Homo sapiens: one gene and its partners. The protein of the gene in region 1 purifies or fractionates together with the protein of each later gene. This does not show direct contact. Each region holds a gene or a part of one and is shown in the gene's direction. Other genes may lie near its edges.

Region 1 (4,825 bases):
TTATGAGCAGATATGGCAATAGGTTTATGGGTTTCTCTCTCACTATGCATATAAAACCCATAAACTCATTACAGAGGAGACAGGTGAAAACACATGGAATGGGGTGGGGTGGGGGGTGCGGGGATGGGGTGGGGAGGGAGATGTTTTCACTTGTCTCCTCTACTTAGTATCTCACTGATGAGACACAAATACTATGAATTATTCTCACGTGATGGCAGGTGGGTTACAGATAAGTTTGTAATTAAAGTAAACCTTATTTTCCTATTGATTTATTTCAAAAACATGGTTCTGGGGAAGAATTTTAGTTCTGATATCTTGCATTTAATAAGATCTGCACAGTCTGTGATATCCATTAGACACTGGTAGAAAGTCCACCTTTCTGAGAAGGGATTGAGAGGCAGTCTTAGTGGTGAAATGTGACTAGAAGCAGACACTAGGATTACTGCAGGAAAGTGAATGCCGAGATTTTCCTTTAGTTCCGAGACTTGTGATTCCTTTATTTTATGGTGTCTGGAATTAGGTGGCCACTTCTGCTTCCATCCCTTTTGTGCAGCAGATGTTCTTTGGAGTCTGACAAGTTACAAGGAATTTGCAGTCTTTCAAACATTGTAGAACCTCTGGTAGAGGCTGTAAGTTTCCATTTCTTGTCAGATGGCAAGGAATACCATCTAAACGAAGCATAAACCCATTGCCACATTTGCTCATCCAAATGTATTTACCCTTCTTTCAAAGGGTAGGTTTTCTTTGATCTCTGTATAGAAACATGTATAAAGAGAGAAGATAAAAGTGTATCTCACTAGCTTTAGTTGAGCCATAGGATTTTCTTTGGTGGACTCTTAGAGCCATATAATGTTTCTTCTAAGCCATTGGATTAATTCTCAGTTCTCTTCAGTCCCCTAGGTTAAAGAGCAAGTGTACAGGAGGATTGCAGCCTCCCGTTCAGTACGAAGATGTTCATACCAATCCAGACCAGGACTGCTGCCTACTGCAGGTCACCACCCTCAATTTCATCTTTATTCCGATTGTCATGGGAATGATATTTACTCTGGTAAGTGGGGACTCAGGATGTCATTCTCAGCTCCTTTTTTTTTTTTTTTTTCATTCTGAAAGGAGGTGAACCGCAGCTCTTTTTTTTTTTTTTTTTTTTAAGAGACGTGGTCTCACTCTGTCACTCAGGCTGAAGTGCAGTGATGGAATCATCACTCATTGCAACCTCAAAACTCCTGGGCTTAAGCTATCCTCTTGCTTCAGCCTCCCAAGTAGTTAGGACTACAGGTGTGCACCACCACCCCTAGCTAATTTTTATTTTTTGTTGCAATGGGTGTCTCACAGCGTTGCTGAGGCTTGTCTCAGACTCCTAGCCTCAAGCAGTTCTTCCACGTCGGCCTCTCAAGTGCTGAGATTATAAGTGTGAGCCACTGCATTCAGCTTTTTTATAGATTTTTGCTATATCTGAGGTTTGAAGGATATTTGTAAATTTAACCATGAAGGAAGGTATCTTTTTTCAAAAAAAAAGTTTGAACTCAGTCCTGTATATTAGCAACAGACAGATTTGTGGAGACATTAATTATATCTGAGAGTATTTTACCTTGTTTCCTTCTTTGTAGGAAAGGGAATGTTTTTGCATTTTCATGTGTAGTGATGATTAATGATTGAGAAACATTATCCTATTAGGAAGAATGATGAGATATATACATGGGCACTGTATGTCAGGACCTTGAGGCATGCATATGGGGTTACAAATGGGATATTAAAATACAGGGTGACCAGCTCAGCTCTGTCCTTTGTGTGATATTATCACTGTTCAAGGCTTGGCCAGTAATTAGTAAACAACGTATGTGCCTCTGGCATATTTTTCCAGGTTTTAAAAATTTTTCATTGGCTTGGCAACTGGAGAGTTCATGTAATTTGTCTTCTCTGTATCTTAGGCTTACATTCAGAAATACATGAGGTTCCCCTTCCACAATGAAAGTAGCTTTTTTAAAATGGTAAATGACTTCAAATAATACATAAATATACTGACAAAGTAAAGGTGACTTAGACTTCCACTATCCTGTAACTGCAATTAATCTTTTGGGAACTGTTCTCTTAATGTGTCTGTTAATATGTATGTACTCTCTCTCTCTCAAATAATTTTGTATAATTGAGATTGTGTCATATATACAGTTTTGTTTTGTTTTTTTTGAGATGGAGTCTCGCTCTGTAGTCCATGCTGGAGTGCCGTGGTGCGCAGTCTCGGCTCCCTGCAACCTCTGTCTCCTGGTTTCAAGTGATTCTCCTGCCTCCGCTTCCCAAGTAGCTATCTGGGATTACAGGTGCCTGCCACCACACCCAGCTAATTTTTGTATTTTTGGTAGAAATGGGGTTTGCTCAGGCTGGTCTCAAACTCCTAACCTCAGACAATCTGCCTGCCTTAGCCTCCCAAAGTGCTCATTAGGGAGGCTTTCTTTAGCATAGTTTAAACGTGAAGCTGAGAAGGCCTTATAAAATTCTCCTTAATTTTTTATATCTTTAAAGGTTGGCTGGGCGTGGTGGCTCATGCCTGTAATCCCAGCACTTTGGGAGGCCGAGGTGGGCAGATCACTTGAGGTCAGGAGTTTGAGACCAGCCTGGCCAACATGGCAAAACCCTGTCTCTACTAAAAATACAAAAATTAGCCGGTCATGGTGGTGCACGCCTATATTCCTAGCTACTTGGGAGGCTGAGGCACAAGAATCGTTTGATCCCAGGAGGCGGAGGTTGCAGTGAGCCGAGATCACATCACTGCACTACAGCCTGGGCAACAGAACGAGGTCCTTTCTCAAAAAAAAAAAAAAAAGGTGTTTGTTTTATAATTTAGAGATTAATCTTGTGGCCTAGCCAGTATAAATTAGTCTGGACTATTTCATTTCAGAGTGAGCTCTTGGAAACCAAGGTTGTGTAAGTTGGATACTGAATTTGCTTTTCCATTTCAGTTTACTATCAATGTGAGCACGGACATGCGGCATCATCGAGTGAGACTGGTGTTCCAAGATTCCCCTGTCCATGGTGGTCGGAAACTGCGCAGTGAACAGGGTGTGCAAGTCATCCTGGACCCAGTGCACAGCGTTCGGCTCTTTGACTGGTGGCATCCTCAGTACCCATTCTCCCTGAGAGCGTAGTTACTGCTTCCCATCCCTTGGGGGCAGCCTCGAGTGTAGTCCATTAGTAATCAGATTCCAGTTTGGACAGGGTGGCTGGATTGTATATCTCGTTAGTAATGTACATGCTCTTCAGGTTCTAGGGCTCCTGTTAGGGGAGGGAGAAATGTTGAATCAAGAGGGAAAACAACTACTATGATTTATAAACATATTTTAATGTAAAAATTTGCATTTAAAAGGAGTGGCCCTGTTTTCTGTGTTAAAACCCCATTTGGTGCTATTGAGTTTGTTCTTTATTCTTTTATCCCAGTGAAAATTGTTGATCTTGCTGTAGGGAAAAATTAAACTCTTTGAATCTCCAAACAAGGAAGTTTCAGCATTCCCTTATGGATCAGAGGAACCTTAGAGGCCTGAAATTGTTGCTTCCAGTTTAGCTGCCCCTCAAATTCAAGTGAATATTTTCCCTTCTCCCTTTACCCTTCTCCAGAAATAAAGCAGGTGACAGGGTTTTCAGAATCTTACCATATTGACTTGTGTATCTTTTTTAAAAAATAATTTGTGATATTTATTGCATACATTTTCTTTTGGCAGTTTTGGATTTTAGGTATTTTTTTGCATGAGGCTGATAATGGTGATGATGACTTTATACCCTTGGTACTATACTAGGAACTTTACATAGTATCTCTACTTCTCACAGTCTTGCAAAGTAGGTGATATTATTCCCATTTTATAGTTGAGAAAACGGAATTAGTGACTGTACCTATAACACCAGTAAATGCAGAGCCAAGATTCTGACCCAGGTCTTTTTGTTGTACCATAAGTTTAAAAGATGAGTCTCATTTTTCTTGTGGTAGATGGTGGTAAAAAGGAGTAGGCAGAGTGTACATAGATAAAAAAAAGTAAAAGGGTAAGTAAAAAATTGATTGTGGTATATGTTATTCTAATCAGCCAAAAAAGTTTAGAAGATTGATGAAATGATCTTTTAAATATGTATTTCTGAATAAAATGTAAAACCAAGAAAGTTATTTCAGGAAGGATAGTGACCCTTTCCTTGAACTGTTAGAAGGGCATTTATTAGGCTAAAACGTCATTAACAAAATGCATTGCATGTTGAAACCAGCCTCTTGAACCATAAGCACTTAGCGACTTTGCTCTGCCCTGTACTGTGCTGCTTCTGCTGTCATCCTGTGTGCCTACAGAAGCCTGGTCTTCCGTCCATGCAGAAATGCTTATGTCCTCCTGTTGTTTAGATGACTCCTATTGTTCAGGTGTACTCTGAGAAGAGAATCACGTTTTTCTGTTTTGCTAAGGAGAAAACCTTGCTGCTTGTCTCTCCTCCCACCCTCCACCATCCAAAATTAACCAGTGAGCTGGATATTACCTGGATATTGCCAGGAGGTGGGCATTAAGACAGTATTCTTTAAAAGTGAAAATCTTGTGAGGCAAACTGCTAAATTCACATTTTTGTTTTTTTTTTTTTACCATCTTCCCTAGGAATATTCCTAGAAAGCATCTGCTTAATTTTGCTGCTAACAGCTAACCTTATCCCACGTTGAGGGTGGTATTAAAACTGTTCACACAGAGTGAGCCTGGGTCAGTCAAAAACAGAATTTGGGCATTTGAGTGATAACAGACAACCTAAGGACAATGAGCACTTTGCAGATCTCTACAATTAAAAGTTGCCTCTTTGAGGCAGGAGGGGAGAA
Region 2 (4,825 bases), on another chromosome or scaffold:
AAGGCACTGTTTCCTGTCCTCAAGGAAAACTAGGGCAGAGAAAAGGTGCTTAGCAATTCTTAGTTAACTGTTGATTTATGTCAGAACATTTATTATATTTACATATATATAATTTAATGATTCCTTTTCCCCTTTAAAAAAATTAGAGAAACTAGTTCATAATGAGCTGAGTTAGAACACATGGTAATGGGAATGAATGAAATTGTTTATCTGAGGCTTTCTCAGAAAATAAGATGAGCTTAAAGCTTCTAGAAAGACTTCTAACTTGTATCTTCTTTCCCTTTTTGCAATGCCAGAAACCATATACTTCATTGCCTTTCAGATGCGGTGGTGCTAGAATTTGTTATATTTTCCATGAGACTTTTGGGCGAACCTTAGAATCTGTTGATCCACTTGGTGGCCTTAACACTATTGACATTTTGACTGCCATTAGAAATGCTACTGTGAGTATGTTTAGCTTTTTAGACTGTAAAAAAAAATGAGGTTAAAGTTTTTCTTACCCATATACTGTGTCTTTTTAAATTTAATTATACAGTTTATTTTGCTCTCATATTTGAAATTAAAAAGCATTTTTCATGAAAAGTACCAAAAATGTGACTTTCTTAACCCTTGGGAAGAACTGAAATTACATATATAATAAGAGTTCTAAGTTTTATTTTCTCAGGGTCCTCGTCCTGCTTTATTTGTGCCTGAGGTTTCATTTGAGTTACTGGTGAAGCGGCAAATCAAACGTCTAGAAGAGCCCAGCCTCCGCTGTGTGGAACTGGTTCATGAGGAAATGCAAAGGATCATTCAGCACTGTAGCAATTACAGTACACAGGTAACGGAGAGAAATGTAACAGGTTTCACATGAACTAGAAAAGGACATGAAGTGGTGGTTTCACTGGGTGGAAGGAAATGTATAAGATGGGATACAAGGTAAAATCTGTAGTTCCCTTACCTGAAAGTGATTTGAAATAGGATTCTTAAATGTAGTCTCCAAATTGAATTCAGTATTTCTGTGATCATTAAGTAAAAGAAAATGACTGTTAGCCTGGCATGGTGGCTTCTACATGTAGTCTCAGCTACTTGGGAGGCTAAGGTGGGAGGATGGCTTAGTGAGACTATGACTTAAAAAAAAAACAAAAAACAAACACGTTTTTCTTTCATCTACCATTTGTAGGAATTGTTACGATTTCCTAAACTTCATGATGCCATAGTTGAAGTGGTGACTTGTCTTCTTCGTAAAAGGTTGCCTGTTACAAATGAAATGGTGAGCTACTATAGCATAGATCATTGTAATTACTATTAGTAAAAGTTTAAATTTTTGCTTGGCTGCTTTTTAATAAGCATTATATGGTTACTTTAGAGTGTAGGCATAATGTTTTCCAGTGTATTGGGAGGAAAAACAAGTTGAGTTTCAGTCTCATTTTAAAGGAAAATTTTTAATAATTCTGGTATAAAGTGCATTTTTTCTTCATATTTTAATCATTGTTAGCCTGCAGGCATGGGTTTTCTTGAAAATAGATTTATGATTGAGGGGTGTGAATAGCTTTGCTGTATTATTTAGTACCACTGATCTTAAGAGAAAATTAGTTCCATCTTTAGCCTCAGTAAACTGAGCATTTATAGCACACTGTTACTTTGAGGTACATCGGAGTAATCTGGCCACTTCTGCAGTTTGCTTGTTATGACCTAATAACTATAATATCGTAGTTGCTTGCTACTATTCTGTGGGTTGCTGCTATCCACACAAATAAAAATGCTGAAATTGGCAGAAATATGGGATAAGCATTTAAAATTGCCCTCATGCCTCTAATTGTTGGCTGGGTTTTTTGTTTTTTGTTTTCTTTCTGATCACTAAAAGTGCATTTGGGTCCTTGGCTCAGGATGGTGAACCCCGTGGAGGTTTACTAAGAGTACAAAACCATCCTTGGAATGTAAGTGCTGCTGCTTGGTTGTTTCTTTAGCAAGGATAGCCCTCAGATTCTGATGTCTAAGACTGAATTTAGCCCAGAATCATTGGACCTTCATTTTAATAGACCCTTTTTACCCAGTTCTGGACTGATAAGTGCTGTTCTGATACCTGAGATTTGTTAGGACAGCACATAATAAAGGGCTCAAGTTTATTCTCTCTGTAAGACTCAGTGGTGTGGTGGCTCACACCTGTAATCCCAACACTTTGGGAAGTCGAGGCGGGTGGATCACTTGAGGTCGGAAGTTTGAGACCAGCCTGACCAACATGGAGAAACCCCCTCTCTACTAAAAATACAAAATTAGCCGGGCGTGGTGGTGCATGCCTGTAATCCCAGCTACTGGGGAGGCTGAGGCAGGCAGGAGAATCACTTGAACCTGGGAGGTGGAGGCTGCGGTGAGCCGAGATCGCGCCATTGCACTCCAGCCTGGGCAATGAGAGCGAAACTCCGTCTCAAACAAACAAACAAACAAAAAGACTTAGCAATTCTGTAGAGGGCTGGATAAATTAATTTTAACTTTTCTTTTTTATTTTCCTCTTAGGATTTTGAACTACATATAATATTTTAACTAGGTGCTTTATAGTTAAGGCTAATCAGTCACTACCTCAGGTCCTTAGATGTATCCTTTACCCAAATAAGTTAACATCTTTAACTTATGCCTTGTTACGAACTTATTTTCTTATTGTTGAAAATGAACTAAAAAAGTGACAGGGAATAGTGGATGATCTGAAGTTTTAATAGCAAAGTTGCATAAAGTGTTGGAATTTAGATTTGCATTAGGTAGATGACTATTTTTCCCTAAGAGTAAAATACTTGTAGTTACTTTAATGTTATTTTTCCCTCTTAGAAATGCAGTTTTAGATGCTGAAATGTAAATAATTTTAAAGCTAGAGTAAATTATTGTTTGGCATAAGATTTATCAGTTGGAATATAATTATCAAGTAATTTAGGCATAAGTTTCCTGTACTTTTTCGGTATTGTCTGTTTCATAAGTTTTATATATAAATTTCTCAAAGTAAAATATGGTTGATGTATTTTTGTATATCGCCTAACTTACTTTTTTTCTAGGTCCATAACTTAGTGGCAATTGAACTGGCTTATATCAACACAAAACATCCAGACTTTGCTGATGCTTGTGGGCTAATGAACAATAATATAGAGGTAAATATAATTCTTAAATGCTTTTTCACAGGTAGAAAAATCTGTTGTAACTCAGTTATATCAAACTTATTTAGCATGGAGTAACTATAAAATAGACATGTGCCACATTAGTGCCTGCTGCATGTCAGGAAATATGCTGAGGGGATTACATTGTTTTCTTAATTCTCAAAACCACCTGCAGGCATTATTACTTTCTGCTTATGAAATTGAAATTCAGAAAGAATCTGAAAATTCATTGATTTGGTGTGACTGGCTCTATTTTGGTAACTTATAGTTTATACAGGGGAAGTGTGTACAACAAAGTATTTAAAATTCTTTTCATTTGGCTTTGAAAGCTGTGAAGGAAACACTCAAGAATTAACCAACTTAGCATAAATTTGGAAAAGCAGAGTGCTTTTTTCACCACTACTGGGGTGGCTGCATTTCATGGATCTTTTCTTTCCTTTTGATTTTAATGTAACAAATTGAATAAGATCTCAGATGGAGCCAAGGCTGGTGGACAGAGCAATTTATCCAGAAGCCATTTTTTTTCTCTGCCGCTTTTCTCCAAAAATAGTACATTTTTCTGCTACTCCCTAATTCAGTAAGACCTGAGTCCCCTGCTATACCAAATTTCCTCTTCTGCATATCCATGGTGAGAAAATTGTAAACATGCAATTCAGAAGCTGGAAGGGATCCTGTGTTATTGACTTCAACTCTGGTTAAAACAGATGGGGTGGCCAGACGTGGTGGCTCATGCCTGTAATCCCAGCAATTTGGGAGGTCAAGGCAGGTGGATCACCTGACATCAGGAGTTTGAGACCAGCCTGGCCAACATGGTGAAACCCCGTCTCTACTAAAAATACAAAAAATTAGCCGGGCTTGGTGGCAGGTGCCTGTAATCTGAGCTACTAGGGAGGCTGAGGCAGGAGAATCAACTTGAACCCAGGAGGTGGAGGTTGCAGTGAGCTGAGATCGCGCCATTGCACTCCAGCCTGGGCAACAAGGGCGAAACTCCATCTTAAAAAAAAACTGGGGAGCTTGAGGCTTACAGATAGCAGTTATTCCTTTGGTGCTTATTTTGCAGGGCACTATTATAGGAAGCAAGCACCTTCTTAACACAGGTATAGGGAACTAATTTTTGGTTACATAGCTGGGGGTGATTCCTGTTATCAGAAAAAATTCCAAAATGCATACATGAGTAGGCACTTCAAAACACTCAGAAAGTAGGCCAGATCACAGTTATGTTAAAAATTAGCATGTAGACACTTAAAGGATTTAGTTTTTTTTACATTGAAACTAACATCATGAAAAACTTGTGTTTGCGGTAGTTCTGTTACACTGACAAGGTCATATGTGATATGATTTCAGATTAGTATTTTTCTACAAATGAATAGGTTTCTGGTTTTAATGACTGTGCCAGAGAACTTTATGTGGATATTTTCATTTAATCTTTACCATACCCTGAGGGCAGATCATGTCATTAACAGATTAGGACACTAGGGCTTCAAAATAGTTGGTAAGCTGTCCAGTTAGCAAAGCAGGTACTCCACATCTGCTGGGGTCCAGGAGCAGCTCAGATCATAACTGGTTAGTAACAGACTAGGGTGAGAATTCTAGATACCGTGGCCTTTTGCTTTGTATCCCTGTTCAAAATGTACATTTTATCATGCTAATTTTTTATTTTGAAGATTGTTAATATCTATACTTTTATTATCTGTTATTTTTTA
Region 3 (4,825 bases), on another chromosome or scaffold:
ACATTTTATTTAAAATATGTATTGCCAGGAGCGGTGGCTCACGCCTGTAATCCCAGCACTTTAGGAGGCTGAGGCGGGTTAATCACCTGAGGTCAGGAGTTCGAGAGCAGCCTGGGCAACATGGCAAAACCCCGTCCCTACTAAAACTACAAAAATTAGCTGGATGTAGTGGCTCACGCCTGTAATCCCCAGCACTTTGGAAGGCCAAGGCAGGCAGATCACCTAAAGTCACTTTGGCAAATAATATAAACAGTTCACAGAAAAGGACATACATATGGCCTTTTAAAAATATAAAAAGATGCCAGGCACAGTGGCTCACGTCTAATCCCAGCACTTTGGGAGGCTGAGGCAGGCAGATCACAAGGTCAGGAGATTGAGACCATCCTGGCTAACACAGTGAAACCCCATGTCTACTAAAAATACAAAAAATTAGCTGGGCATGGTGGCGGGCGCCTGTAGTCCCAGCTACTCGGGAGGCTGAGGCAGGACAATGGTGTGAACCTGGGAGGCAGAGCTGGCAGTGAGCCGAGATTGCGCCACTGCACTCCAGCGTGGTCAACAGAGTGAGACTCTGTCTCAAAAAAAAAAAAAAAGTATTAAAAACAAATGCACTTGTATACTTTAAAAGATTTAATTTTTATTTTATGTGACTTATAGCTCAATAAAACTTATTTTTAAAATATGTGCATGATTTCTTTTTTTTTTCTGTTTCATTTTTTATGGGAAATCCCTCCTTAAACTTAAGGAGAATGTAAACCTAAATACAGATATCAAGGTGTCTTTATTCATTTACCGCTGCTTACATTTTGGAAGTATGTTGATTCTGAGGAAAGAAATCAAGGTGGATCTATCACTAAGAAGTAAAATTGATCCATAATATTTATGTCATGTCATGGTATTTGAAAATGTTATATTACTAAGAGCTTCGATGGCAGTCATTTTTTTTTTCTTTTTCCTTTAAATAGTCATGTTGGAAGCCTCTGCAGAGAACATTTTACAGCAGGACTTTTGCCATGCTATCAAAGTGGGAGTGAAATATACCCAACAAATAATTCAGGGCATTCAGCAGTTGGTAAAAGAAACTGGTGTTACCAAGAGGACACCTCAGAAGTTATTTACCCCTTCGCCAGAGATTGTGAAATATACTCATAAGTAAGAACATCTGTGCAAATGAAAATATGAAATTGTCATCAGATTTAATTTCCTCGTGGGAGAGAAACTTCCCATGGAAGCACTGCCCATGCATTACTTCATAAATAGCACTTTTCTGTTTTAAGAGTCATTCCCATAAATATCTGCTTACTCCCTTAAAAAGGATAAGCCCACATCACTCTTGTAAGACCTAACTTTGAATCTCAAATGAAAGAGTGTGTTTATTGGTCAAGATTCAGGTAAGCACCACATCTCTCCACGTCTAGGAAAAAGAATAAAACGTTAAGATATTTGAATATCTAAGGAAACTGTTGGAATTCTCAAAAAGAAATCAGAGGTAATCACTGTTACATGCCCAGTGCTTAGAACGTTAGGCAGACACTCAGTAAATGTAAATGAATCACTGGAAAATTATTTTATTTGAAAAAATTGAAAAGGTTAATACTTTCCCTTAATGTCAGTTGCACAGCCATGAGTTGGAAATTAAATTAACTCTTTCTAGCAAAAGAGTTTCATGTGATAATGGAGCCAAAATGGGTAGAATGAAGAAAGGAAGAGGTTAAAAAGAATATATGAAAGGTGAAATTAATTGAACAATTAAGAAGAAAAGAACAGGATACTACATGTGGTTTCCCCTGGGAGGGTGGGAGAAAGAAATTTGTGTTCTATACCATAAATAGTAAACAGATTAGCAATGATAAATAGCAATATAAATTTTCAATTCTTTCTGAAGTATTTATTAAAGTTTTAGCTGATTATTATTAAATATTTCAGTTTTGTTTATAATAGAAACTGCCTCTTGTTTCCAGATATTATTATGCTAACATTTATTTTCTGCTTAAATAGACTTGCTATGGAGAGACTCTATGCAGTTTTTACAGATTACGAGCATGACAAAGTAGGTATACCTGAGTTTTGTCTTCCATAATTGCCCTAGGAATACATTTTTGTCATAACTCATGTAATTTTCTTTATGAATGCTAGTCCTATTTTTATTAAAAATCTCTAAATGAAAAACTAACAAAAGCCTAATTGTTTCTCCATTCTTTTGTTTTGTTTTGTTTTTGAGACAGAGTCTCTCTCTGTCGCCCAGGCTGGTGTGCAGTGGCATGATCTCAGCTCACTGCAACTTTCGCCTTCCAGCGATTCTCATGCCTCAGCCTCCCAAGTAGCTGGGATTACAGGTGCACGCCACCACACTCAGCTATCTTTTGTATTTTTAGTAGAGACGGCCATGTTGGCCAGGCTGGTCTCAAACTCCTGGCCTCAAGTGATCTGCCCACCTTGGCCACCCAAAGTTCTTTTCTTTTTAATATAAGTTTTAGGGGAGTGTACAAATGTATTTGAATGAATTAACATGTAGTATTTGTCATAAATCAAGAACCAATTCCAATATTTTAAAGAATATTAAAGAAATCAGAGTAATTCACAATGTGTTCATTGTATAATAATTAGAAAACAGAAATATTAAATGTTGTCATGTATATGTAATAACTGAACCTCAACTTTCTTTTAGGTTTCCAGAGATGAAGCTGTTAACAAAATAAGATTAGATACGGAGGAACAACTAAAAGGTAAATTTTATTTTATTTTATTTTATTTTTTTGCTGAGGGCAGCTTTAATAAGGCATGGCCTGACTCTTGCTTCTTGGGATTAAAGGTCAAAGAGGAAAGGCATCACATCTGTAGGAAAAGAAGAATTCAAAGGACTTTCAACTTTACAGCTGCTGTTCCCTAGACCTAGAATGCTCTCTCATAGCAGGTGGTCTTCTTCTAACCCAAGGTTCAAATGCCACCTCTTCTCCAAAGCTTCCCCGAACTGTTTCGGGGAAAGAGAAAGTCCCCTTTGCACAGAACCGCTATTACTATGTATTTTTTAATTTTAAAAGCATTAAAAGAAATAATAGACTTTTTTTTTTTTTAACTTTAGTTGAAGATCTCAAATAAATGTTACTCTCATTGCTTCTCAGCTTTATTTTCAATAAACTTGTAATAATGATAGCTCACAAGGTTACTGCTAAATTAACTTCTATGAATGTAGCTAGCACTACATTTGATGCAGAGTAGGTACCTAGTAAATGTTGAATGTGAATGTTCCTGATCTTTTCTGAATCAAACTCCTACCATACAAGAAATGTAACCTGGTATCTTATCATTTGAAAACCCAAATATATTCTTTAAAATTCTTGAGTTCTTGATCTGTGAAATTGCAGTGTTAATAATACCTGGTTTATGGGGATTAAATGAGTGAATCATTTACATCTGTGCCTGCCACACCGTAAGTGTTCAATAAATGTTAACTGATGCTATTCTTAATACCTAGTGGAATCATAAGATACAGAACTTAGGTAATTTAGCTCTCCAGAAATTATTAAGCAAAGGATCTTACTGTATAATATCAACCTCTGGCCAGGCGCGGTGGCTCACGCCTGTAATCCCAGCACTTTGGGCGGCCGAGGCAGACAGATCACGAGGTCAAGAGATCGAGACCATCCTGGCTAATACGGTGAAACCCTGTCTCTACTAAAAATACAAAAAGTTAGCCGGGCGTGGTGGCGGGCACCTGTGGTCCCAGCTACCCAGGAGGCTGAGGCAGGAGAATGGCGTGAACCCAGGAGGTGGAGCTTGCAGCGAGTCGAGATCGCGCCACTGCACTCCAGCTTGGGCAACGGAGCGAGACTCTGTCTCAAAAAAATAAATAAATAAATAAAAATAATAGTAATAATACCAACCTCACACAAACTGAATATAAATGAAGTATGACATAGTTTTTGTTAATTTTTCTAATAGACAAATATACTCTCACATGAATATTTATTTTAAGATAAAAAACTGGCCAGGCGTGGTGGCTCATGCCTGTAATCCCAGCACTTTGGGAAGCCAAAGTGGGTGGATCACTTGAGATCAGGAGTTCAAGACCAGCCTGGCCAATATGGTGAAACCCCATCTCTACCAAAAATACAAAAATTAGGCGGGCATGGTGGCAGGCTCCTGTAATCCCAGCTACTTGGGAGGCTGAGGCATGAGAATCACTTGAACCTGTTAGGCAGAGGTTGTAGTGAGCTGAGACCGCCACTGCACTCCAGCCTGGGCAATAGAGCAAGACTCCATCTCAAAAAAAAAAAAAAAAGTGCTGTTAGCATTGATATTAAGGCCATTAATTGTAACTGTCATTGAATATGTTTAGTCCTTTCTCACTACATTTCATCCTATTTGGTAAGAAAGAAATTTTATAGCGAATATTGTCTTATTTTAAAAGAATAGTGACTTTTTGTTTGTATTATACATAGTAGAATATCTTCACGACCCTCTGGGTTGATAGGATATTTTAAACATTTTGGTACTGATTGTTTTCCTTTCCAAGTACAACTCAGTTAAGCAGAAAAGATATTAAAGTCTAATATTAAAAATTATTCTTTTCTGAAGAAGATACAATCTAATATATCTTTCTGTGACCATTTCTTGTGTTTTGGTTACTTTGAAGTTATGTTTAATAAACCATACACATGAGAGAATAGTACTTAAAACTTGGCATAAATTAATTGATAGGGTAGAATAGCTTAACATCTAAACCCTAAGCTAAAAATAAAATAAAATAAAACCATAAGCCTTTGAGGCTGACAGATCTTTATTCAGGTCACAGCTGTATCAGTTACTACCTGTGTGGTCTCAG
Region 4 (4,825 bases), on another chromosome or scaffold:
ACCTTAGCTTACTTTTTAAACTTTTTACTTTAACTTTTTGACTCTTGTAATAACACTTAGCTTAAAACACAGACACATTGAACAAATGTACAAAAATATGTTCTTTATATTCTTATTCTATAAGCTTTTCTCTATTTAAATTTTTTTAACTTTTTCTTAAAAATTAAGTCACAAATATACATAGTAGCCTAGGCCTGCACAGAGTCAGGATCACCAAGACATCTCTAGGCAATAGGAATTTTTCACCTCCATTATAATCTTAAGGCACCACAGTTATTATCTTAAGTGGTCCATCTCTGATGGGAAACACTGTTATGCAGTGTATATTGCTTTAGGTTGGGCAAATAGATTAGTGGAATATAATAGAGTTTAGAGTTTGACCCATGTATTTATAGGGAATTTAGTTCATAACAAAAATAGCATTGTCATTCAGTGGGAAAGGAATTCAGCAAATGGAGTTGAAATATTTGTCTATTAGGAAATAAAGATTTATATCTCACTATATTACAAATTACAGATGGTTGGGAGATTGATTGATTGATTGATTGACAGAGCCTTGCTCTGTTGCCCAGGCTGAAATGCGGTGGCGTGATCATAGCATACTATAATATCCTCCAACTCCTGGTCTCAAGTGATTTTCCTGCCTCAGCCTCCCAAGTAGCTGGGACTACAGGCATGAGCCACCATGTCCAGCTAATTTTAAAAAATTTTTTGTAAGGATGAGGCTTCACTATGTTGCCCAGGCTGGTCTTGAATTCCTGGCCTCAAGTAATCCTCCTGCCTTGGCCTCCCAAAGTGCTGGGATTACAGGCATGAGCCACCACACCTAGCTGAGAAGTGTCTTGATACATAGGCTTTGGGCTTTGCTTGACATACCATGTGGCACACTGGAAATGTTTAATAAACGTTTGCTGAGTGTATATTTTGCTTTTTTTTGTAAATTTATTTATTCATTTTTTAAAAATTTTTAGTAGAGACGGGGTTTCACCGTGTTAGCAAGACGGTCTCGATCTCCTGGCCTTGTGATCCGCCCGCCTTGGCCTCCCGAAGTGCTGGGATTACAGGCGTGAGCCACCCCGCCCGACCGCTTTTGTTTTTAGTAACAGCTTTATTGAGATATAATTCACATACCATGCAATTCACCCATTTAAAGTGTATAATTCACTGGTTTTTAATATGTTCACAGAGTTGTGCAACCATCACTATTTTAGAGCACTAGTCAATTTTAGAGCATTTTTATCACCCAATAAAAGAAACCCTGTCCCCATTAGTAGACACCACTGATTTCTCCCCAACCCTTCCTCACTCAGCCTATGGCAACCACCTGCTAGTCTCCTTTCTCTGTGGATTTGCCCATTCTGGGCATATGTAAATGGAAGCCCACAATATGTGATCTTTTGTGTCTGGCTTCTTTCACTTAACATGTTTTCACAGTTCATGCTTTTCTAACATGCATCAATTACTTCATTTCTTTTTATTCCTAAATAATATCCTATTGTATGCTTATACCACATCTTATTTATACACTTATTTGGTGGACATTTTGTTCTACTTTTTGGCTGTTATTGGTAGTGCTGCTGTGAACATTTGTGCATAGGTTTCTGTCTGCATGTGTTTTCATTTCTTTTCAGTATATACCTACCAGTACATTGCTGGGTCATAACTCTTTTTAACCTTTTGAGGAATTGGCAGACCGTTTTTCCAAAGCAGCTGTGTAATTTTACATTCTTACCAGCAATGTGAGGTTCTACTTTTCTCCACATCCTTACCAATTGCCTGTCTTCTTTATTATAGCTATCCTACTGTTTGTGAAGGGGTATTGCATTGTGGTTTTGATTTTTATTTCTCTAATGGCCACTAATGTTGATTTTCTTTTCATATACTTACTGGTCATTTATGTATCTTCTTTGGAGACATCTTTATTGAGAGCTTTTGCCTTTTTCAATGGGTTCATCTTTTTATTATAGAGTTATGTCGAGAATATATAAGACTCTTAGAGTTCCCTATCAGATACATAATTTGCACATATCTCCCAGTCTCTGGGTTGTTTTTCACTTTCTTGATGTTGTCCTTTGAAGCACAATACTTCACATTTAACATTAGACCAGTTAAATATATTGAGAGTTAAATCCATGTGAAAGTTTTACTCGTATTACAGTATTGCAAAGAACAATGTAATCAAGTTATTTTGTGGTATATTAGTACTTTTAACTAAGATCTGTTAAACTAAGCTAGAAATTAGCTGACATGTATTATGGTCAGATCTTTTAGCTTTTATTCTAGTTTGCTTTAGCTTTCAATATATTGTGCTCACCAGATATTCTCCTATTTCTCACCCCACATGCACGCACATATCTTTGCATTCATGACTTTTTAATTAGTATTAGAATTTTTTTTTTTTTTTTTTGAGACGGTGTCTAGCTCTCGCCCAGGCTGGAGTACCGTGGTGCAGTCCCGGCTTACTGCAATCTCTGCCTCCCAGGCTCAAGCAATTCTCCTCAGCCTCCTGAGTAAAGGGGTTACAAGCATGCACCACCATGCCCGGCTAATTTTTTGTATTTTTAGTAGACACAGGGTTTCACCATGTTGGCCAGGCTGGTCTTGAACTTCTGACCTCAGGTGATCCACCCACCTTGGCCTCCTGAAGTGCTGGGATTACATATGTGAGCTACCGCACCCAACCTGGTGTTAGAATTCCAGTTAGGTGTTTTCAGACTGCTTCAGCAAAAATAATTTGATGTAGAAGAGAATCTTAGCTGGATGAGCCATTTATGATTTTTATAGATCATTAATCCTGTTGCCTACCACCTCCCCATCCATTTGAATGACTAGTTTGAATATGTTAGGAAGAGTGTATCTCTACAGAGGATAATGCATAGCTATCCTTTTCTTAAATTCCCATTATATATGAAATTTATATATATTTAATTATATATATATTGTTACATTTTTTATCATTTTCCTTCTTTCTTTAACTGACATCCTTGAGCTATCCTTTTCTTAAGTTTCATGCTAAATTCTACCCTGAATTAATGGTGGTCATTTATTTAACACAGTGGTTCCAGAATTCTTTTTTTAAATAATAATTGTGTAGATACAGATATTTTTCCCTGCCCACCAGATAGCCATTCTACTGGAACGTAATGGTTAGCATTCCTTTGTTTCTCAGTTATAGAAGGTCCCTGCAGATTTTAACTCTCAACTAAACAGATGTTAACATGGGGGTGAGATCTGAGAATGCTAGCATAAATTTACGGAGACAAATCCATAGATATCTTCATCATTGGTCATCTGAGGAGAGTAAATCTAGGAAGGGATTATAAAGTTTATTTGGACATTTGGTTTTTTTGTTTTTATTTTGTTTTTTGTTAATCTATATGAAGTCGAGTTGCTCTTTCCCTTTTTTACCCTATTGAATTTTGTTTGAGGATAAACAACTCGTTGTAGAAACTATATCAAGGGTTTAAAGTTTTAATTTTTTTGAATATGTGTAATTTGTATTATTGGTGAAAAGAAAAATATGTATCAGTTTACTATATATATTTCTCCTTGTTCTGATTGTTTGCTTACACATTTCTCTGTTTGCGTTTAAAGTAAGGATCCAGCTAAGTGGTTGGTCATTTAACAGATATTTGAGCTTCTGTTGTATGCCCAGTTTTTCTTAAAATAACCACAAGAAGCCTAAGACAGGGGTCTTGATTTGAAGACATTAGTATGATAGATTGATGGTTTTCCACCAAAGGCAGTTTTATCCCCCAGGAGACGTTTGACACTGTCTAGAGACATTTTTTATTGTCTCAGCTGGGGGTGCTATGTTGTCTAGTGGGCAGAGGCTAGGGATGCTGCTAAAGAAAAGAATGCCAGCCTGGCCAACACAGTGAAACACCATCTCCACAAAAAATAGAAAAATTAGCCAGGCGTGGTAGCACGCTATGTACCTGTAGTGTCCCGGCTATTTGGGAGGCTGATGCAGGAGGATCATCTGAGTCTGGGGGAGGCTGCAGCGAGCCATGATCGCACCACGGAACTCCAGCCTGGGTGACAGAGCAAGACCCCATCTCAAGAAAGAAAAGAATGCACAAGAAAGCCCCCCAGTACAAAACTTATCTGATTCTCAGTAGTGCTAGGGTAGAGAAACCAAACTAACCTGTGAAATAGCTAGGTGCTATTTAATCAAAACAAGTATTTTGAGCTCCAGAATAACATTTTTAAAAATTTATTTTTTTTTTAAGACGGGGTCTCGCTGTCACCTAGGCTGGAGTGCAGCGACATTTTAGTTCACTCCAGTCCTGAACTCCTGGACTCAAGTGATCATCCCACTTCCGCCTCCTAAGTAGCTGGGACTACAGGCTCACACCACCACACCCAGCTAAGTTTTTTTTATTTTTGTAGACATGTGCCCAGGCTTGTGTCAAATTCCTGGCCTCAAGCAATCCTCCCGCCTGCCTTGGCCTCCCAAAGTGCAGGGATTGCAGATGTGAGCCACTGCACCTGGCCCAGAATAATATTTGAGCTCCAGATAATTCCCAGAAGGGAGAGATCAGCAGGAGTTGACCCTTGGTTAGGCTTTGAAGGGGAAAATTTGGGATCTTCCTATAGTGCGAGAAGGGAGAAATGACAGGTCTTTGGGAAAAGACAGCAGGATAGGGCATTTGGGAGAAAGTTGACTTGTTTCTTAATTTAGGAAACAGAATAGTGACAACTAGAGTTATTGGTATTTTGTCATCACCTCAAACACAAGTAGGAAAGACTGTATGCAGATGGTAAGAGGTTGAAGAAACCAGAAATCTTTTTTTTTTTTTTTTTCTAGACGGAGTCTCACTCT
Region 5 (4,825 bases), on another chromosome or scaffold:
AGATATGAGCCATTGTGCTCAGCTTTATACTCTTGATTAACGTATGAAGATCTTGCTAGCAATAAAATTACTTTATGGTTTTAGTTTTTTTCAGAGTGGTTGTCTCAACGGTCACTAATTAGGGTGCAAGGGTTTCAGATTTTTGACAAGATGGAAAATCATGATATACTGCGAGTCTATAATCTGTTTTGTCTTCAGATGTAACTATATAAAATAATTTACTGGGGCCCCTTCTTTACCCCATTTATGGTATAAGAGAATAGGTATTAAATGGTAGCAACAGTGGGCCGGAGAGGTCTTTCTTCCATTCTTTCCCCATCAAATCTTCATATGGTACTGATTCTAAATAAAATTATAAACCAATCAGAAGTTTGTATTTGATTACAATTTGAGAATTCAAAGAACATATCTGAAGAAATAGCACTGAAAATAAAGATGGGCGAATTCTTAATACTGTGTAAGTAAATGTTTCATGTTCCTTTGTTAGATCCCAAGCAGTATTGAAGATATATTTAATGATGATCGCTGCATAAATATCACCAAACAGGTAACAACAACAAAAGTAAAAACATTGCTGCTAAAACTTTGGGTCAAAGTAAAACGCCACTTAATGTTAATTTTTTCTTATTCTTTTAGACTCCATCATTTTGGATTTTAGCTCGTGCCTTAAAGGAATTTGTGGCCAAAGAGGGTCAAGGAAATTTACCTGTTCGAGGCACAATTCCTGATATGATTGCAGATTCAGGCAAATATATAAAACTGCAAAACGTGTATGTCACTGTTTTCAAACTATGTAATAGAAAAAGTCTGATTATATTAGAGATAAACATTTTATCATCCTGTCAGAAATCAAATGAAAGTTTATTACAACCTCATTGCTTATAAATAAACTAGGCCAGCTGCAGTGGCTCATGCCTGTAATCCCAACACTTTGGGAGGCCAAGGTGGGAGAATTGCTTGAGTCCAGGAGTTTGAGACCATCGTGGGCAACATAGTGAGACTTCCATCTCTACAAATTGAAAAATTAGGTGGGCATGGTAGTGTTCGCCTTTAATCTCAACTACTCAGGAGGCTGAGGCAGAAGGATCTCTTGAGCTCAGGAGTTTGAGGCTGCAGTGAGCCATGATCATGCCACTTCACTTCAGCCTGGGTGACAGAGCAAGACCCTGTTTCAAATAAATAAGTAAAAATAAGCTGAAGAACTTAGACCAGGCTGGGCGCAGTGGCTCACACCTGTAATCCCAGCGCTTTGGGAGGCCGAGGCAGGCGGATCACGAGGTCAGGAGATTGAGACCATCCTGACTAACACGGTGAAACCCTGTCTCTACTAAAAATACAAAAAAATTAGCCGGGCGTGGTGGCAGGCGCCTGTAGTCCCAGCTACCCGGGAGGCTGAGGCAGGAGAATAGCGTGAACCCGGGAGGCGGAGCTTGCAGTGAGCGGAGATCGCACCACTGCACTCCAGCCTGGGCGACAGAGTGAGACTCTGTCTCAAAAAAAAAAAAAAAGAACTTAGGCCGGGCGTGGTGGCTCACGCCTGTAATCCCACCACTTCGGGAGGCCGAGACGGGTGGATCACAAGGTCAGAAGATCAAGACCATCCTGGCCAACATGGTGAAACCCTGTCTCTACTAAAAAAATACAAAAAATTAGCCAGGTGTGGTGGTGCGCACCTGTAGTCCCAGCTATTCGGGAGGCTGAGGCAGGGGAATCGCTTGAACCCAGGAGACGGAGGTTGCAGTGAGCCAAGATCGTGCCACTGCACTCCAGCCTGGAGACAGAGCAAGAGTCCGTCTCAAAAAAAAAAAAAAAAAAAAAAAGAACTTAGGGGGCAATTCTTGTTAAGCTCAAAGCAAAATTGAATGGGAAATACAGAATTACCACATACGCCTAGGAGGCAGAGTTTTTTTTCATACTTCATGATAAACTTAATATTTGATCCCTTAACTCTGTGCTATGAACTATATGTATTAAGTAATTTAACACACACACAAGGTTCACAACGACCTTATGAGAGAGAGAGAGACTGTTACCGGCCCCATTTTACACATGAAGAAACTAAGGTATTGAAAAGGTTACTTATACAAGGTCAGATAGCTGGTAAATGGCAGAACCAAGATTTGAACCCCAGGAAACCCAGTACCAGAGCCTGTATGCTTAGCTATGGCCCTATACTACCTTGTATTTGTAACTTAAAACCATGAAGGTTTGATGAATTTTTTATCTTAATGTTTCATAAGTTATAGTCTATGACTATAGCTAGACATCTTGCTATCCAGGTATCACTAGCCTGAACCCAGATAGACTATCACAGGGATGGGTCTCAATGAATATGACCCTCGTATAGTTAGGGCATGGTGCAAAGAATCCAGGTCTGCTGGCTCGGTTTCTTTGGGGTCCAAGTAATGTCACACAGAGATGATCTCTCTTCCCCAGACAGATTTCACTCTTTATCATGTCACCATTGAACGAATCTTGGTTTGTTGTCCTAGCCTAAGAGTTCAACTACTTAAAACTTGGGGAAGGTCAATTGAGGATAGAAAGAAGTATGACCTTACATGGGAGGTAGTCAGCCTGAACACTGATGATTTTTAGAGGGTGAAAGGTAAATAGACGTAAAGAAAACTTTTATGGCCGGATGCAGTGGCTCACACCTGTATTCCCAGCACTTTGGGAGGCCAAAGCGGGTGGTGAAATGTGCCACAAGGGATGTTCACAGTTGTTTTAAATGGTTGAAATTTTACGTTTTCCATGGTCTGTCTCAGTGGTATAGATACAGATAATAATTGGGTAAGGGTTTTTTTTTCCTCTCATAATAAATACAGAGTATTTTAAAACAATCAGAGGTAGAGCATGTTTATCTATGGCAATGCTAAAAAGGTATGAAGGTCAGTTAATTGAAAATTGTCATTAATACAGTATTTTCAGTTTCTAAATCACTTGAACCCAGGAGTTCAAGACCAGCCTGGGCAACATGGTGAAACTCCGTCTCTACAAAAAAGACAAAAATTAGTCGGGCATGGTAGCGTGTGCCTGAATTCCCAGCTACTTGGGAAGCTGAGGTGGGAGGATCAGTTGAGCGTGGGAAGTTGAGGCTGCAGTGAGCCAGGACTGCGCCACTGTACTCCAGCCTGGGTGGCAGAGCGAGATCCTGTCTCAAAAAACAAAGAAGTTTTACATTGGAGATGAACAGTTTTAATGTATTTAACTTTCCTTGGACTTGACTTCCAGGAGATAAGTCATGTTCTTCAGTAATGTATTTTTTCAGGTCCTCTGTCACAGAAGCCGAAATCATAGATCCCTCTAGGGGAGCAGTTTTTAAGTTGGGTGCTGTTAGAGGGACCCTGGGTTTTAGTGGGCACTGAGAGTCCGTCACTAACACTGGAAAGATTCCCAGCTACTCATGGTGCTGTTGATAGCATTTCCCTGGCATTTTCACATTTCATACATTGTCAGACCTGTGTTTTTTCATGAAAAGGAAAGAAAATTTTTGTTCATGGTAACAATTTAAATTTTGCTAATTTAAAAATTTGTTAGTAATTGCTTTTTATTCTTTTTTAGTTACCGTGAAAAAGCAAAGAAAGATGCTGCCGCTGTGGGTAATCATGTTGCCAAATTGCTGCAGTCCATTGGCCAGGTAAGCTACTGGGCACACTGTGCCCATACAGGCCTCAGCACGTAACTCCAGCCAGAAAGGGTTTAGAGACAGAGGGTGTGGCACTGCCTCTGTGCTTCTTTAGAGGGAGCTGTCATTTCCCTGCCTAATGGGATAGCTTGTGATAAGGAAACAAGATATTTTTAAAGTGCTCTCCCAGCTCTTGGAGAAAGCCTTCCCATCTCACAGTGATTGGCTTTGTGCCGCACCCTTTGTTAATCTTCTCTTTTAAACTGGAACAGAATCTGTATTTATCTCTTTACAGGCACCAGAGTCCATTTCAGAGAAAGAATTAAAATTACTCTGTAAGTCCCCTTGAATTAATTTCCTTATTTTGCTTGATAGAAATGTGCCACAGGGAATGTTCCCAGGTATTTTGAATGGTTGAAATTTTAAGTTTTCCATGGCCTCAGTGATATAGATATAGATAATTATTGGGTAAGGTTTTTTTTTTCCTCTCATAATACAATACATGGCGAGTATTTTAAGACTGAATCAGAGGTAGAACATGTTTATCTGTGGCAATGCTAAAAAGGCTTGACGGTCAGTTAATTGAAAATTGCCATTAATACAGGATTTTCAGTTTTTAAATTTTAAGTAATTTAGGAAGTTTTTTTGTCTGAAGACTTTGGGTGTGAAGTCTTGAGTCACATGTACATTGACAATATTGGTTTAAATACTCATTTTGATCTGTGTTAAATGACTGTAATGGAGTTAAGAATTTTGCCATCTAGTTTCGGAGTGGTTAGGTTCGTAGGAGTCTTCTCAGTAACTCCTCAGTAGGCCAAAAGCATTTTCTTTTATTTAAGAGTCAGTTTCAAAATACCCAATCTGTTGTGCATGCCATCTGAAGATTTCTCCCTGTAGCTACTGCTCCTACGTCCTGTGGAAGTTTATATTTTGCATGCTCCCCATCCTTAAAATAGATTTATCCAAGCTTTCCATTTTATGACTTCTCCACAATGTCTGTTTAGGCTCGGTTTTAATGTTTTCTGCCACTACTAATCTTGCACCTTGTTTGTTCTATTAGACTAATCTTGAATTAGCGTTTGTTGTATTAGATTATATAATACTAGATCACAAGTTTGATGCTGGGTATTTGAACATTTATTATTCTGTTCTACTTTGGGGCGTTTTTGAAAATTTCAATAATACAAAGCTTAAAGTCAT

What was found.
Region 2: the proteins of TMEM183A (region 1) and DNM1L purify together in Homo sapiens (affinity purification with mass spectrometry; one large-scale study listed by BioGRID and IntAct). This does not show direct contact.
Region 3: the proteins of TMEM183A (region 1) and PNPT1 purify together in Homo sapiens (affinity purification with mass spectrometry; one large-scale study listed by BioGRID and IntAct). This does not show direct contact.
Region 4: the proteins of TMEM183A (region 1) and SNX3 purify together in Homo sapiens (affinity purification with mass spectrometry; one large-scale study listed by BioGRID and IntAct). This does not show direct contact.
Region 5: the proteins of TMEM183A (region 1) and NAE1 purify together in Homo sapiens (affinity purification with mass spectrometry; one large-scale study listed by BioGRID and IntAct). This does not show direct contact.

Annotation. Positions count from the first base shown.
Region 1 is NC_000001.11:203,019,901-203,024,725, forward strand, and holds part of TMEM183A (transmembrane protein 183A), read left to right. Parts: intron 1-892; coding exon 893-1,048; intron 1,049-2,954; coding exon 2,955-3,140; 3' UTR 3,141-4,825.
Region 2 is NC_000012.12:32,730,692-32,735,516, forward strand, and holds part of DNM1L (dynamin-1-like protein), read left to right. Parts: intron 1-322; coding exon 323-443; intron 444-664; coding exon 665-820; intron 821-1,162; coding exon 1,163-1,252; intron 1,253-3,023; coding exon 3,024-3,116; intron 3,117-4,825. UniProt on the Homo sapiens protein: Functions in mitochondrial and peroxisomal division.
Region 3 is NC_000002.12:55,669,220-55,674,044, reverse strand, and holds part of PNPT1 (polyribonucleotide nucleotidyltransferase 1, mitochondrial precursor), read left to right. Parts: intron 1-965; coding exon 966-1,152; intron 1,153-1,998; coding exon 1,999-2,050; intron 2,051-2,668; coding exon 2,669-2,726; intron 2,727-4,825. UniProt on the Homo sapiens protein: RNA-binding protein implicated in numerous RNA metabolic processes. Catalyzes the phosphorolysis of single-stranded polyribonucleotides processively in the 3'-to-5' direction. Mitochondrial intermembrane factor with RNA-processing exoribonulease activity.
Region 4 is NC_000006.12:108,215,331-108,220,155, reverse strand, and holds part of SNX3 (sorting nexin-3), read left to right. Parts: intron 1-4,825. UniProt on the Homo sapiens protein: Phosphoinositide-binding protein required for multivesicular body formation. Specifically binds phosphatidylinositol 3-phosphate (PtdIns(P3)).
Region 5 is NC_000016.10:66,809,509-66,814,333, reverse strand, and holds part of NAE1 (NEDD8-activating enzyme E1 regulatory subunit), read left to right. Parts: intron 1-487; coding exon 488-547; intron 548-636; coding exon 637-770; intron 771-3,561; coding exon 3,562-3,637; intron 3,638-3,920; coding exon 3,921-3,960; intron 3,961-4,825. UniProt on the Homo sapiens protein: Regulatory subunit of the dimeric UBA3-NAE1 E1 enzyme. E1 activates NEDD8 by first adenylating its C-terminal glycine residue with ATP, thereafter linking this residue to the side chain of the catalytic cysteine, yielding a NEDD8-UBA3 thioester and free AMP.